Linked DNA regions of Homo sapiens: region 1 is linked to region 2. Evidence: fine-mapped expression QTL. A gene starts in region 2. The other region holds a variant in brackets. All regions are shown on one strand. Distances are between the middles of the regions.

What was found.
Region 1: its variant is fine-mapped to the expression of PTCD1 in lymphoblastoid cells (CAP, PIP 0.95).

What each region holds. Positions count from the first base shown.
Region 1 is chr7:99,410,028-99,418,352 of GRCh38, forward strand. BUD31 (BUD31 spliceosome associated protein) reads left to right here. Exons shown (of 6, transcript NM_003910.4): 2 at 7-142; 3 at 1,037-1,159; 4 at 6,111-6,233; 5 at 7,402-7,568. The coding sequence starts at 1,066. ATP5MF-PTCD1 (ATP5MF-PTCD1 readthrough) reads right to left here. Exons shown (of 9, transcript NM_001198879.2): 9 at 6,712-8,325. PTCD1 (pentatricopeptide repeat domain 1) reads right to left here. Exons shown (of 8, transcript NM_015545.4): 8 at 6,712-8,325. It overlaps LOC124901707 (a long non-coding RNA gene), which reads left to right and starts at 1,918. Exons shown (of 2, transcript XR_007060451.1): 1 at 1,918-1,956; 2 at 2,162-2,268. It also overlaps LOC124901841. RefSeq lists a silencer at 5,606-5,655. The variant A/AT (reference allele first, on the strand shown) is at 4,119.
Region 2 is chr7:99,435,118-99,443,442 of GRCh38, forward strand. PTCD1 (pentatricopeptide repeat domain 1) reads right to left here and starts at 3,681. Exons shown (of 8, transcript NM_015545.4): 1 at 3,575-3,681; 2 at 1-151. The coding sequence starts at 125. It overlaps ATP5MF-PTCD1 (ATP5MF-PTCD1 readthrough), which reads right to left. Exons shown (of 9, transcript NM_001198879.2): 3 at 1-151. CPSF4 (cleavage and polyadenylation specific factor 4) reads left to right here and starts at 3,826. Exons shown (of 8, transcript NM_006693.4): 1 at 3,826-4,068. The coding sequence starts at 3,966. It also overlaps the pseudogene LOC100131859. RefSeq lists silencers at 175-322, 3,821-4,120 and enhancers at 1,449-1,974, 3,271-3,560.

The sequences.
Region 1 (8,325 bases), 25 kb before region 2:
TTACAGAAGAAACAGGACCAGAGAGGGAAGGTGACCTGAAAGTCACAGAATAATTTTTTAGAGCTGAACAAGAATCCAAGCCTGCAACTGCAGAGACGAGAGATCTTTCTGCTGTCTATACTCTTGGAAAGCACATCCTAAGGTACTTTGATTTTACAGTCATCTTTCCCTTTTTATTTTATGTTTTGTTTTGTTTTGTTTGTTATTGAGACATGGTCTCACTCCGTCACTTAGGCTGGAGTGCAGTAGTGTGAACATGGCTAACTGAAGACTTTCAACCTCCTGGGCTCAAGTGATCCTCTTGCCTCAGCCTTCCGTGTAGCTCAGACCACAGGCACCCACCACCATGCTCAGTTAATTTTTTTGATTTTTTTTTTTTTTTGGTAGAGATAGGGTTTCACCTCATTGCTCAGACTGGTCTCAAATTCCTGGGCTCAAGTGATCCTCCCATCTCAGCCTCCCAAGGTGCTGGCCAAGACCAGAATTACAGGCATGAGCCACCGTGCCTGACCTTCCATCTTTGCCTTTTTAAATACTCACCCCCATGGCTCCCCGAGTCACAGCCCTCCTTATACTCTATTGTAATTGCTTTTTCTCTTGTCTGTCTCTTTGCTAAAATGTCACCTTCTAAGGGGCAAAGGCTTAACTTTTGTTCTGTGTTCCCAACATCCAGTATAGGGTTAAGCTTTTAGTTGAAGTTAGCTAATGACAACAGCAAATGTCTCTTAGGCACACATTATACACCAGGCATGATAGATACAATTCTAATGAAGTCTTTGCAATGACCACATAAGGTAGCTTCCATTATCCCCATTTTACAGATGAGGAAACAGAGGCTTAGGAAGGTTAAGTACCTTTCTGAAGATCACAGCGGGTAAGTAGCAGAGCCAGGATTTGAACACAGTCTGGGTGCTGAGCCCTGTCCCATAGCTGTGACCCTATGCTGACTCAAGGAAGTCAGCCTGTACCGAAATAATGGCTGGCAAAGGCCTTTGGGGATTTGAGACTCAGAAACCAATTCATTTTTTTCCCCCAGATCTTTGCAGATTATCCTGTGGAAGGAAAATGCCTAAAGTCAAAAGAAGCCGGAAAGCACCCCCAGATGGCTGGGAGTTGATTGAGCCAACACTGGATGAATTAGATCAAAAGATGAGAGAAGGTGAGTAGGGGAGTTCCTGTCTGGGTGGGCTGGGTCCAAGGGTCACAGGCTTAGATGCCCCCAGGGGACAGGCATAAATGCAAATATAAAAAGAGAGTGGTCTACTAACACTGACATGTTGTGTTTGCTTATGAACTTGGGGAAATACTGTAAGTGCCCGAAAATAAGATAACATTAATGAAAAGGTCCTCAGAAAAGGTGTTTTTTTTTGTTTTTGTTTTTGCCAACTCGAATATAAAAGGTTATGAAATATAGATCAAATAGTCTACCTATAGTTATTTACTATTTTGGTTAGATATATATTTAAAATCATACAAAATATATTTACTTGGAAGTGCTATTCCTTTTCAGTATCATCGATTAGTCTTTGCCGCATCTGTTTTCTGTCACTTCCTTGTAAATGGCGTGTGATCCTGCTTTGTGAACCCGTGTCCTATGCTGTCTTTGGAAATTTTATCTGAAGCCACAAGCATCTGTTGGCCTTATATGATCACAGTGTGGCCACTTACCAATTGACTTTTTTATTTTTATTTTTTGAGTTGGAGTCTTGCTCTGTCTTCCAGGCTGCAGTGCAGTGGCGTGATCTCGGCTCACTGCAACCTCTGCCTCCCGTGTTCAAGTGATTTTCCTGCCTCTCAGCCTCTCGAGTAATTTGGATTACAGGCATGCGCCACCATGCCCGGCTAATTTTTGTATTTTTAGTAGAGATGGGTTTCTCCATGTTGGCCAGGCTGGTCTCGAACTCCTGGCCTCAAGTGATCCACCCACCTCGGCCTCCCAAAGTGATGGGATTACAGGTATGAGCCACTACACCCAGCTGAAGTTACTTTTTAAAGTAGCTTTTGAAATGCTTGCTTGTAACTAACCTAATCATGGTTATTATGAGGTCGTACCTCCAGCAGTAATTACTAAATTAAATCAATGTTAAATTACTTTGCCCCTTTTTAAAAAAACTGTTCGTACCAGATAACTTCTATTAAATACTCAGTACTTGTTTTGCAGTTTAGATTTGGATGGGCCTATTGCAGTAATCACGGTCATTTTGGGCTGAGAGATGTCTTCCCGAAACAGCTCTTTATCAAAATAAAGGAAATGGGAGCATGCTGGAATAGAAGAGATTTTGCAAGTCCTTGAAAGTAAATTAACTTCATCTTCTAAAGGGTGACTTTTGAGGGAAGGAGGAACCCTACTTTGTGTTTAGATATTCTTTACCTCCAGACAGAAGTATTCTTTGTTCTGTTTTCTTTTTGTTTTTGTTTTGAGACAAGGTCTCACTTTGTTGCCCAGGCTGGAGTGCAGTGGTTCAATCACAGCTCACTGAAGCCTCCACCTCCCAGGCTCAGGTGTTCCTCCCACCTCAGTCTCCCAGGCAGCTGGGACTACAGGCATCCACTGCCACGCTTGGCTAAGTTTTCTTTTCTTTTTTTTCTTTTTTTTTTTTTTGAGACGGAGTCTCGCTCTGTCACCCAGGCTGGAGTGCAGTGGCGCGATCTCCGCTCACTGCAAGCTCCGCCTCCCAGGTCCACACCATTCTCCTGCCTCAGCCTCTGGAGTAGCTGGGACTACAGGCGCCCGCCACCATGCCCAGCTAATTTTTTTTTTTTTTTTGTATTTTTAGTAGAGACGGGGTTTCACCATGTTAGCCAGGATGGTCTCGATCGCCTGACCTTGTGATCCACCCGCCTCAGGCTCCCAAAGTGCTAGGATTACAAGCATGAGCCACCGCGCCCGACCAACGCTTGGCTAATTTTTTGTAGAGATGGGGGTGTGTTAGTCCATTTTCACGCTACTGATAGACATACCTGAGACTGGGCAATTTACGAAAGAACGAGATCTAATGGACTTACCGTTCCATGTGGTTGGAGAGGCCTCACCATCATGGCAGAGGCCAAGGAGGAGCAAGTCACGTCTTAACATGTGTACCTGCTGAATCTTTACTACCTGCTTTTCTGCTTGGATCACAGCATTCTGTTTGTTGAGCTGAATTGTAATTCCTAGGTAATAGAATGGCTTAAAAGCTGGAGACAGGGAGGGATAGTCTTCTTGACCACTCTTCGCCCTTCTGTTCTTCCCTAAAAACTGAGGAGGTCATAGACAAAGATGAACTTGTGACTGCTGAGAGAGAGAGAACTGCCTTGCGGCAAGTATGAGTGCCACCTGATCCTGCGTGTGTTGAAGGAGCAGCTTCTGCTGTGGCTACTTCCCTCAGAACCTGTAGACTGGTCTAGTTTATTTAGCTTTTCCTCAGCCCTAAAGGACTTTGGCTGGGAGATGAAATTAGAAGTGCCTTCAAGATGATTAGGATGCCCATCTGTGGGCCTAGAATTATCTTGATTAATTATTACGCTGTAGAAATAGATCTGAAAGCATAGGGACCAAGGTTGGTTTTTTGGCTTTTTTTTGTTTGTTTTGTTTTGTTTTTTTTTGAGACAGGGTCATCTGTCATCCAGGCTGGAGTGCAGTGGCACAATGTCAGCTAACTGCAACCTCTGCTTCCCAGGTTCAAGCACTTCTCGTGCCTCAGCCTCCCGAGTAACTGGGATTACAGGCATGTGCCACCATGCCCAGATAATTTTTGTATTTTCAGTAGAGACAGTGTTTTGCCCTGTTGGCCAGGGTGTTCTCGAACTCCTGACCTCAAGTGATCCACCCACCTCGGCCTCCAAAAGTGCTGGGATTACAGGCGTGAGCCACTGTGCCCAGCCGGGACCAACCTTTTAACAGAAGTTACCATTAAATGTCTTTAAAAATCTATGTTTTCTAATTCTGTAATTAAAAAGACTTTTTTTCTTGTCACATGGGTAATGTGCCAACGTTGTGACAAGGTTTGAGAGTGGCATGTCTCACACATGGATGTGAACACCCAAGCACACTCATGAATTACAAAAGGATCCAAAAATAGACATTTTTAATTTAAAACAATTATGTTTAAATTACTTAGCTTATTTTTTATTTTTTT[A/AT]TTTTTTTTTTTGAGACGGAATCTCACACTGTTGCCCACGCTGGAGTGCAGTGGTGCGATCTTGGCTCACTGCAACCTGTACCTCCCGAGTTCAGGCAATTCTCCTGCCTCAGCCTCTTGAGAAGCTGGGATTACAAGCGTGCACTACCACGCCCGGCTAATTTTTTAATTTTTAGTAGTGATGGGGTTTCACCACGTTGGTCAGGCTGATCTCGATCTCCTGACCTCGTGGTCCGCCCACCTTGGCCTCCCAAAATGCCCGGCGGCTTATTCTGTTTTTAAATAACAGCTTTATTGAGATATTAATCATATACTGTAAAAGTGAACCTGTTAAATTATCCAATTAAGGGGTTTTTAGTATATTCACAAAGTTGTACGACCATTGCCACAGTTAGTTTGATGTTTCAAGGTTCATCTGTGTTGTAGAATATATCAGTACTTACTTCATTCCCTTTTTTTTCTTTTTTTGAGACGGGAGTCTTGCTTTGTTGCCTAGGCTGGAGTGCAGTGGTGTGATCTCAGCTCACTGCATCCTCCGCCTCTGGGTTCAAACGATTCTCCCACCTCAGCCTCCCAAGTAGGTGGGATTACAGGCATGCGCCACCATGCCCTGCTAATTCTTTTGTATTTTTAGTAGAGATGGGGTTTCACCATGTTGACCAAGCTGGTCTCAGACTCCTGACCTCAAGTGACCTGCCCACCTCAGCCTCCCAAAGTGCTGGGATTACAGGTGTGAGCCACCGATTCCGGCCAGCCCTGTTTAACTTCTTGAGGAGCCACCTAACTCTTCTGCAGTGGCTCCACCATTTTACATTCCCACCAGGAACGTAGGAGAGTTCCAATTTCTCCACATCCTTCCCAACACTTGTTATTGTGCCATAATTTTGATTATAGTCATCTGTAGGGTCCAGCCCCACAGGGTCGGTGGGTTTCTCCCCGTGTGTGGAGACGAGAGAGCGTAGAAATAAAGACACAAGACAAAGAGATAAAAGACAGCTGAGCCTGGGAATCCCACCAAGACGCGGAGACCGGTAGTGGCCCCAAATGCCAGGCTGCACTGATATTTATTGGATACAAGACAAAGGGGCAGGATAAGCAGTGTGAACCATCTCCAATGATAGGTAAGGCCACATGGGTCACGTGTCCACTGGAAAGCGGGCCCTTGCCTGCCTGGCACCAAGGCAGAGAGAGAGAGACAGCTTATGCCATTATTTCTGCTTATCAGAGACTTTTAGTACTTTCACTAATTTGCTATTGTTATCTAAAAGGCAGAGCCAGGTGTACAGGATGGAACATGAAGGCGGACTAGGAGCGTGACCACCAAAGCACAGCATCACAGGGAGATAGTTAGGCCTCTGGATAACTGCGGGCGGGCCTGACTGATGTCAGGCCCTCCACAAGAGGTGGAGGAGTAGAGTCTTCTCTAAACTCCCCCGGGGAAAGGGAGATTCCCTTTCCCGGTCTGCTAAGTAGCGGGTGTTTTTCCTTGACACTAACGCTACTGCTAGACCAAGGTCCGCTTGGCAACGGGCATCTTCCCAGATGCTGGCGTTACCGCTAGACCAAGGAGCCCTCTGGTGGCCCTGTCCGGGCATAACAGAAGGCTTGCACTCGTTTTCTGGTCAGTTCTCACTATGTCCCCTCAGCTCCCATCTCTGTATAGCCTGGTGTTTCCTAGGTTATGATTGTCGAGTGAGGATTATTATAATATTGGAATAAAGAGTAATTGCTACAAACTAAGGATTAATGATATTCATATATAATCATATCTAAGATCTATATCTAGTATAACTATTCTTATTTTATTTATTTTATTATACTAGAACAGCTCGTGCCCTCGGTTTCTTGCCTCGGCACCTGGGTGGCTTGCCACCCACAGCCATCCTAGTGGGTATAAAGTGGTATTTATTCATTATCAGTAGTTACTTACAAAAAGAAAATCCTGCGCAGACCGACCCTATTCCCCCAAACACACTCTTTGTTTCTCCCCAGCTGAAACAGAACCGCATGAGGGAAAGAGGAAAGTGGAATCTCTGTGGCCCATCTTCAGGATCCACCACCAGAAAACCCGCTACATCTTCGACCTCTTTTACAAGCGGAAAGCCATCAGCAGAGGTAATTAGTCAGTCTCTCTTGGACTTTGAAGCTCGCGTCACTTTTGGAGTTACTGAACTAACCACAATCCTTATTCTCGCAACCTGTGCAAGTCATGGTTTTTCTTACCACGAAAATTAGGGGGAGCCAACGTTGGCTGAGTTTTGTGTGTGTGTTTGTTTTTTGTTTGTTTGTTTTGAGATGGAGTCTCACTCTGTCACCCAGGCTGGAGTGCAGTGGCGCAATCTTGGCTCACTGCAAGCTCCACTTCCTGGGTTCAAGCGATTCTCCTGTCTCAGCTCCCAAGTAGCTGGGATTACAGGCACCTGCCACCACACCTGGCCAATTTTTGTATTTTTAGTAAAGATGGGGTTTCACCATATTGGTCAGGCTGATCTTGAACTCCTGACCTCAGGTGATTCACCCGACTCGGTCTCCCAAAGTGCTGGAATTATAGGCGTGGTCCACCGCTCTTGGCTTTTTTTTTTTTTTTTTTTTTGAAACAGGGTCTTGCTCTGTTCCACAGGCTGGAGTGCAGTGGTGCAATGATGGCTCACTGCAGCCTCAACCTTCTGGGCTCAAGGGATCCTCTCACCTCAACCTCCTGAGTAGCTGTGACTACAGGTGTGCACCACCACACCCAGCTAATTTTTAAATTTTTTGTGGAGATGGGCCCTTGGCCCAGGCTGGTTTCTTAACTCAAATGATCCTCTGGCGTTGGCTTCCAAAAGTGCTGGGATTACAGGTGTGAGGCACCTTGCCTGGCCTAAGTACTTTTTTTTTTTGTTCCTCCTCCAAGGACTGTCCCGTTGCAATACTGAATGCCTTTTTTTTTTTGAGATGGAGTTTCGCTGTCACCCAGGCTGGAGTCCAGTGGCACGACCTCAGGTCACTACAACCTCCGCCTCCTGGGTTCAAGTGATTCTCCTGCCTCAGCCTCCTAAGTAGCTGGGATTACAGCTGCTACCACGCCCGAGTAATTTTTGTATTTTTAGTAGAGACGGGGTTTTACCATGTTGGCCGGGCTGGTCCTGAACTCCTGACCTCAGGTGATCCGCCTGCCTCGGCCTCCCAAAGTGCTGGGATTACAGGTGTGAGCCACTGCACCCGGCCTGAATGCTTTTTTTGATCAAGGGTGGGGAAGGTTTTTAGACCATGGCCTGATGCTCTTTCCCCATCTTTTTGACAGAACTCTATGAATATTGTATTAAAGAAGGCTATGCAGACAAAAACCTGATTGCAAAATGGAAAAAGCAAGGATATGAGAACTTGTGCTGCCTGCGGTGCATTCAGACACGGGACACCAACTTCGGGACGAACTGCATCTGCCGCGTGCCCAAAAGCAAGCTGGAAGTGGTAATGTCTGACACTCAAGCTTGGTGTTGTTTTCAGCTCAAAATTCTGCCTTAGTCGACTGCAAGGGATCTTATGTTATTTGGTTGGGCTGGAATGTCGTTTTGTCCCTGGATGTCCTGCTGGCTCTCCCTCGTGGGAGTGGGTCCCTGTATTCAGGAATCCATGTGAGGCAGCGTGTGGCTGTGTGTTTGTTAGGTCTGGGGTCAATCTCAACTCCACTTTTGGGCAAATTACTGAACCCCTTTCCTCACTTAGGAAATGGTGGTGGGGAGCCCTAATCCCAAGGTGGTGGCAGGGTGACATCAGGGAAGGACAACCAGTGAGTTCCTGTCCCTTTCAGTCCTCACAGTGATACTTTAACATTACCATCACTATCTTTCCCGCCCCCCCAAGACGGAGTCTTGCTTTGTCGCCCAGGCTGGAGTGCAGTGATGCCATCTTGGCTCACTGCAACCTCCACCTCCCGGGTTCAAGCGGTTCTCCTGCCTCATCCTCCTGAGTAGCTGGGACTACAGGCATGCACCACCACGCCTGGCTAATTTTGTATTTTTAGTAGAGACGGGGTTTCTCAATGTTGCTCAGGCTGGTCTCGAACTCCCGACCTCAGGTGATCCACCCGCCTCAGCCTCCCAAAGTGCCGGGATTACAGGCATGAGCTACTGCGCCCAGCCCACTGTGTTTCTTCTTTCAGAACTTTCTGTTCCAAGTACCACTCCTAGGCCAGGCGCCTCAGGAGTGGTGCTGAGGGACAGGAGCT
Region 2 (8,325 bases):
ATTGGCCGCATCAGCCCCTCCCTGCCTCCTGCCCACCTGGCTCTACAGGGGTCCAGGTGTTGCAGGATGAACAGTCCCATGGGGCGGGCCCTGGCGAACAGTCGAGCGAGTCTCACGAAGTCCATTTCTGGCTTTCCTGTCCCTCCAGGGCCTGGAATATATCAGGAAAAATAAGAGAGTCAACTCAGTTCCTAGTAACAAAAGGCAGAAAGAAAGAAGTGGTTACAAGTATGGGCCCAGGCCAGGCGCGGTGGCTCATGCCTGTAATCCCAGCACTTTGGGAGGTCGAGGCTGGCATATCACTTGAGGTCAGGAGTTTGAGACCAGCCTGGACAACATGGTGAAACCCCGTCTCTATGAAAAATACAAAAATTAGCCAGGCTTGGTGCTGTGCGCCTGTAATCCCAGCTACTCAGGAGGCTGAGGCAGGAGAATCACCTGAACCTGGGAGATGGAGCTTGCAGTGAGCTGAGATTGCGCCACCATACTCCAACCTGGGTGACAGAGTGAGACTCTGTCTCGAAAAAAAAAAGAAAAGAAAGAAAGAAAAAGAACAGGCCAGGGGCGGTGGCTCATGCCTGCACTCCCAGCACTTTGGGAGGCCGAGGCGGGCAGATCAGTTCAAGACCAGCCTGGCGACACCCCATCTCTACTAAAAATACAAAAAACATGAGCTGGGTGTGGTGCTACACGTCTAATCCCAGCTACTGAGGAGACTGAGGTAGGAGAATCGCTTGAACCCAGGAGACGGAGCTTGCAGTGAGCTGAGATCGCGCCACTGCACTCCAGCCTGAGTGACAGTGAGACTCTGTCTCAGAAAAAAAAAAAAATAATAATAATAAATAAAATAAGAAGTATGGGCCCAGAGGTTAGAAAGCCTAGGTTCAGGTCAGACATAGCTCACTGCAGCCCCACCCTCCTGTGCTCAAGCGATCCTCCCATTTCAGCCTCCCGAGTAGCTGGAACTACAGGTGTGAGCCACTATGCCTGGCTAATTTTATTTTTTGGTAGAGACAGGGTCTTGCTATGTGCCCAGGCTGGTCTTGAACTCCTGGACTCAAGCAATCCTCTCGCCTCGACCTCCCAAAGCACTGGGATTACAGCAATGAGCCACCATGCCCAGCCTAAAGTATTTTAGAGTCTGGTTATATTAGAAGGTTGCGATTGGAAAAGTCTTACAAGTGATGGCAGATTGAACAGATTAAAAACTAGGCCCAGTAGGTCAGGAGCGGTGGCTCACGCCTGTAATCCCAGCACTTTGGGAGGCCAAGGTGGGTGGATCCCCTCAGGTCAGGAGTTCGAGACCAGCCTGACGTGGTGAACCCTATCTCTGCCGAAAATATAAAAATTAGCTGGGCGTGACAGCGTGCCCCTGTAATCCCAGCTACTTGGGAGGCTGAGGCAGGAGAATCACTTGAACGTGGGAGGCAGAGGTTGCAGTGAGCCAAGATCGCGCCATTGCACTCCAGCCTGAGCGACAGAGCAAGACTCCATCTCAAAACAACAACAACAACAACAAACAAAAAACTAGGCCCAGCAAGGGGAGAGACTTGCTGGGGTCCTGCAGCAGTGCAGTGGGTGAGACTGGCCAGCTTGGGCTGGGCTGGCTTTGAACTCAGGTCCATGTAACGCATTGATGATTGTCCTGACCAGCACCTTTTGTGAAACTAGTGCAGGGGGCCTTTATCATTCTGCATCTGGCAAGCCCTGCCACTCCTTCTTACAAGCATGGTGTTTATGTAATTTTCTTTTTTGTGGAATGGGGTCTTCATGTTGCCCAGGCTGGAGTGCGATGGCACAGTGGAGTGCAAATGCACAATCACTGCAACCTCCAACTCCTGGGCTCAAGTGATCCTCCTACCTCAGCCTCTCAATTAACTAGCACTACTGGTGCACACCACCATACCTGTCTAATTTTTTGTATTTTTTTGTAGAGATGGAGTCTCCCTATGTTGCCAGGCTGGTCTAGAACTCCTGGCCTCAAGCAATCCTCCAGCCTTGGCCTCCCAAAGTGTTGGGATTGCAGGCGTAAGCCTCCATGCCCTGCCTTACGTGCATTAATTACAATACACAGAATTACAAAACAAAAAGCAATGATATTGAAATGGCATCAAAATGCTTTAAAAACAAATTTCTGCTATACTAGTATAGATGCTTATTTTCAATGCATGAAATAACAAGACCCTATCATAATTTCTTTTCTTTTCTTTTTTTTTTTTTGAGACAGTCTCTCACTCTGTCCTCAGGCGTGACCTCGGCTCACTGCAATTTCCGCCTCCCGGATTCAAGCGATTCTCCTGCCTCAGCCTCCCCTGGAGCTGGGACTACAGACGCATGCCACCAAGCCCAGCTAATTTTTGTATTTTTAGTAGAGACAGGGTTTCACCATGTTGGCCAGGATGGTCTGGATCTTTTGACCTTGTGATCCGCCCGCCTCGGCCTCCCGAAGTGCTGGGATTACAGCCGTGAGCCACCGCGCCCGGCCGACTCTATCATAATTTCAAAGCAGTAATAAATGTAAGTGACAGCTTAAGATACCACCTTGTAGTTGCTGCACAAACTGGGTTTTTTTGCGTCTCACTCTGTCACCAGGCTGGAGTGGGGTGGTACAATCTCGGCTCAATGCAACCTCTGCCTCCCGGGTTTAAGCCATGCTCATGCCTCAGCCTCCCAAGTAGCTGGGATTACAGGAACGCGCCACTACTCCAGGCCAATTTTTATATTTTCAGTAGGGACGGGGTTTTGCCATCCTGTCCAGGCTGGTCTCGAACTCCTGACCTCACGTGATCCTCTCGCCTCAGACTCCCAAAGTGCTGAGGTTACAGGTGTGAGCCACCATGCCTGGCCCTGCACAAACTGTTATCTGGAACTATCATTTACACTCACCCTCACAGTTTCAGGCACTGCTAAGGCTGCTCCAGCAATCAGGAAAGGAAATGCTATACTTCACATAGAGAAAAATAGGGGTGCATTTTGTTCCTACACAAGCTCATTACCCCACCCTGGTTAAAAAAAACCCTGAATTAGGCTGTATAGTGGCTCATGCCTGCAATTCCAGCACTTTGGGAGGCCCAGGCAGGAGGATCGCTTTGGGCTTGGGGCCAGGAGTTCGAGACCAGCCTGGGCAACATAGCAAGACCCGCCACCCGCCCCCCCAACCCCGCCGTCTCTACAAAAATTAAAAATAAAATTTTAAAAATTAGCCAAGTGTGGTGGTGCAGCGTCTGTAGTTCCAGCTACTCGGGAGGCTGAGGTGGGAGGATCGCTTGAGTCTGAGAAGTTGACTGCAGTGAGCTATGATCGTACCCCTGTACTCCAGCCTGGGCCACAGAGCGAGAAAAAACCCTGAATTAGAGACACGCTGCGGCCGTCCTTCCTCGGAGAGACCCGCCCCTCCTCAGAGGCCCACCCGGACCCTCAGGCCAACGCCGACCCCTCTCCACACGGACTTCTGCAGCCTCAGTTTCCCTCCTCAGACGCCCCCGGCTCCAATCCCGGCTCGGGCACTTCCTTCCCCTCTGGCGTGTCTTGGCCCGGGTCCCGGGGCTCCTGCGAGGATCACACAGGAACTCACTTGAAGTGTCCGGCGCAGTGCACTCCGACGGGGAGCCCTGCCCGGTCCCCGCGGCGAACCAGTCTCTTCCTCGGGTCCCCCTCTCCCCAAGCGCGCAGGCGCAATCCGCGTCGCCGACTCACGCGGCTGGTTTCAGGTTTCTGGCGAGGCCGGTGTTCGGCTGGCGGCTAGCTGGGACTAGCGGAACGGCGGAGTCTCGATTGGCAGTGCCTGGACAGGCGCAAGGGCCGGCGCGGGCTCCGGGCGCTCCCGGCATCCCTCGGGCGGCGGCGGCGGCGGCGGCGAGGCGAAGCGAAGGAGGAGTGTGTGCGGCGGGGCCGGCGGCGGGTAAAGGCGAGAAGGCTGCAGGAGACCGAGGGGGAGCCGGGCCGGTGGGGCCGCCGCCGCCGCCATGCAGGAAATCATCGCCAGCGTGGACCACATCAAGTTTGACTTGGAGATCGCGGTGGAGCAGCAGCTGGGGGCGCAGCCGCTGCCCTTCCCCGGCATGGACAGTGAGCGCGGGGCCCGGGCGGGAGGGCAAGAGCGACTCGAACCCGGGACCCGCTCCTCTGTGATCCCGGGACTCCCTCGCCTCGGTCCTGAGACCTCCCCCGGCTTCCTCTGGATCCTGGGACCCCTCCCCTTTGGTCGCAGGACTCCTCCCTCTAGGTCTTGAGAGTCCCTCCCACCTCCTCCGGGTCCTGGGATCCTCCCCTTTAGTTACCGAACTCCCTCATCTGTGGTCCCGAGACTCTTCCCACTCCATCCTGAGACCTCCTCTTCTGGATCCCGGGACGCTCCCCTTGGTTTCAGGACTCCTGACTCCCAGGCCCCCATTTCCACCGTCTGGGGACTCCTTTTACCCTCACTCGGACTCAGGAGTTCACTGCCTCGGATCTTTGGCCCTCTGCGGCTGTTCAAAGGTAATCTGTAGGAGGGTAGACCTTGTCTGTTCGCTTAATTCTTGAATAAGGGTGGGTTATCCTGGATTGGAACTCTCCCTCAACACTCTCCCAACTGCAGGAGAGTACTAGGATATCACACCCGCTACGTTGAGCGTCTCTTCTTGATTTCATCAAAACTAGGCGGTTGGAGGAGATGTGCTGAGGGAAGGACCACCTTTCTGTAGGAGACCCCAGCTAGACTCTCAAACTCCCTTCTAGGACTCACTCTCCTGGGAGCTCATCCCTAGTTTTTGGCCCGTCCCTACTTTTTTCTGGACCCCAACTCTGAGTTATTCATCACACCCAGCAGCTGGTGTGGACCCTTGGCCTGAACTCCCTTCACTGCTCCCCTTCATATGGTGGCTCCTGGCTTCCCACCTCCTACTCGGTGGGATATCTTGTACTTTAAAAGAAACCAGTAGTTTTCTTTGTGTCTTCTTTCCTATCTGGACATACTTGAAATCTAATGCTATAACCTTAAAGTTTGGGGGCTTGTGGAAGTCACTGAGTTCAATCCACAGATGGGGAAACTGAGACCCAAGCGGGGGAAGGGACTTGCTGACAATCACTCAGTGCATAGCAGAGGCGGGCAAGCTCTCCAGTGTTGTGTGCTGTCGCCCACAACTACCAGCGGGGTCTCCCACCGCTCCCAGCAGCCTCACTCCCCTCAGGCGGTCACACCTTCTCATGCACATGTGACCTCTGAGTCTGTCCCTTTATGTGTTTTTGTTGTTGTTGTTTGTTTGCTTTTGAGACAGGGGCCCCTCTGTCGCCCAGGCTGGGTGCAGTGACGCAATCATGGCTCAATGCAGCCTCGACTTCCCAGGCTCCAGCAATCCTCCCACCTCAGTCTCCCAAGTAGCTGGGACCACAGGCATGCACCAACACGCCTGGCAAATTTTTTTGTGTGTATTTCTTGGTAGAGACACTATTTCATCATGTTTCCCAGGGTTGGTCTTGAACTCCTGGGCTCAAGTGATCCTTTTACCTCGGCCTTCGGAAGTACTGGGATTATAGGCATGAGCCACTGCACCTGGCATATATATATATATATATATTTTTTTTTTTTTTTTTTTCCTGCCTGTCCCACAACTTTACATGGTGATAGTTCTGTACAAGATAGTTTCATTGGAAATTAATTAAGTCTTCAAGAAGACAAGATAGTGCTTATAAGGAGACATCATCAGACCACCCTATTTGACACAGGCACAAACACCATCACCACTGTACACTCCCTAAAAAGCAGCTGCTCAAATTCACACACACACACCCCCTCTTACCTACCCCTCGACTCTTGTGATCATCCCTGCACATGTGGCCTTTTCCTGTCTTTTTTTTTTTTTTTTTTTTGAGACAGAGTTTTGCTTTTGTCACCCAGGCTGGAGTGCAATGGTGCGATCTCGGCTCACTGCAACCTCCACCTCCCAGGTTCAAGCAGTTCTGCTGCCTTGGCCTCCTGAGTAGCTGGGATTATAGGCGCCCACCACCACGCCCAACTAATTTTTGTATTTTTAGTAGAGATGAGGTTTCACCATGTTGGCCAGGCTGGTCTTGAACTCCTGACCTTAAATGATCCACCTGCCTCGGCCTCCCAAAGTGCTGGGATTACGGGCATAAGCCACTGTGCCCAGCCGGCCTTTTCCTGTCTTGATGGCACTAGCTTGAGACCATGGAACCACCCACGCAGGGCAGCTCTTTTCCTCCCACCCTTCTGCCATCTGACACATCCACAAGCCTGTGAGGGGAGGTACAGTGGCGAGGGGCCCACATACCTGTTCCTGAGGCCCGGGACACACCTAGCCATGGGTGTTGCTCCAGCCAGGGCTTCAGAGTCGGTAGGCACCCTCCACACTCGCTGCTTGTCCATATCCTGTTCAGTTAAAGCCTAGTGAGGCCACAGCCCTTCCTCACCCATCCCTCCTCTTCATCCCCATCTGAGTTTTGGGAAGAACTGTCACTTTGCCCATAAGGCATACTCATCCTATCCACATGAGACTCAGTTCCCAGAACTGTGTATTTCTGAGCAGAAGCAACTCTAACCTCTAAAGAGAGAGACCAGAAGTACTTTCAGAATTTTTTTTTTCTTTTTTTTTGAGACAGAGTCTTGCTCTGTTACCCAGGCTGGAGCACAGTGACGCGATCTTGGCTCACTGCAACCTCTGCCTCTGGGTTCAAGTGATTCTCCTGCCTCAGCCTCCCAGGTAGCTGGGATTACAGGCACGTGCCACCATGTCTGACTAATTTTTGCATTTTTAGTAGAGATGGGGTTTCACCATATTGGCCAGGCTGGTCTTGAACTCCTGATGTCAAGTGATCCACCCGCCTCAGCCTCCCAAAGTGCTAGGATTACAGACGTGAGTCACCGCACCTGGCCACTTTCAGACTTTTTGAGATGCAAATGGAGTGACCTCCCTGTGACAGCCATAAGTTCTATAACCTCAGCTGTGTCCTAGCAAAATCTGCTTGCTTCCAAGAAGCCAAGGAATCTTTTGTGATTTAGCAAGGGGAGGCATGTTAAGTGGGCTTCAGAGATGCTGTCATTGGTTTTTCAGCAATTCTAAAATGGTTACTTGTAGAGGAAACTGTTTCTGATGCCAAGGTCAGTTTAGTCTGGCAGCTGGGGCTGGTGAATTCCTGGACTCATCAGAACAGCTGGTCCCTGGAGCCCACTGAATTCCAGCACACTCCGACTGTGGGAATGAAAGGCTGTGCTTTTTTTTTCTTTTCTTTTCTTTTTTATTAACAAGCAACATAATCGGCCGGGCGTTGTGGCTCACACCTGTAATCCCAGCACTTTGGGAGGCCGAGGCGGGCGGATCACGAGGTCAGGAGATCGAGACCATCCTGGCTAACACGGTGAAACCCCGTCTCTACTAAAAATACAAAAAATTAGCTGGGCAAGGTGGCGGGTGCCTGTAGTCCCAGCTACTCGGGAGGCTGAGGCAGGAGAATGGTGTGAACCCCGGTGGGGCAGAGCCTGCAGTGAGCCGAGATCACACCACTGCACTCCAGCCTGGGCAACAGCGAGACTCCGTCTCAAAAAAAAAAAAAAAAAAAACAAAAAACAAGCAATATAATCAAAAACAAAAACACAACAACCTTAAAGCTGAAACAGCAATAAGTCAAACTGCCGCGGCAGTTCACAGTTTTACCTGGGGTACCTGCTCCCTCATTGCAAGGCAAGACTGCATTTAGTATATATGTGACCAAGAAGAATGAGAGAAGTGGAAAACACTGGAGAACAGAAAGTATCAAGAACCTTTCATCAGGCAATGCCAAAGCGCTCTGCTCTTTTCCTCTTCTTTGCCTCTGTATCCTCTGTGGTTCCAGTTCCAGCTGAACTTGTGACAATCCCAAATCGCTCCTTCCTCTTTTTCAGTTTCTTATCATCTTCAGACTTTCTGGAAATTGAAGAGACATTCAAACCAAATCTTTGAGCTCTTTCCTTCGGCTTATCCAAGTTAACCATAGGTGTGTTCAGATGACAGACTTTTGTTGGAACTGAAGAAATCCCAAACCTAGCTGCCTGAGCAGCTTTCTTACTCTCCAAGCTCACAGGTACACTGAATTGTTCGGCCCTCTTCTGCATTCTCTCAGCCTGTGGTATTTCAGATGTAATTTTCACCACTTTCTTCTCTGCTGCCACATCAACAGTTTTTTTCAGGGGGTTCTTCCTATTTGACAAGGGGTTTTTTTCTTCTTCTGTTTCATCTCCTAGTACATCTTCATTTGCCTCCTCTTCAGCATGTTCTTCAAGATATGCCTGGAGTCTGTGGATAAGATCTTGCTTTATTCCCTTGGTCTCCAAACCACAAGAAGACATTC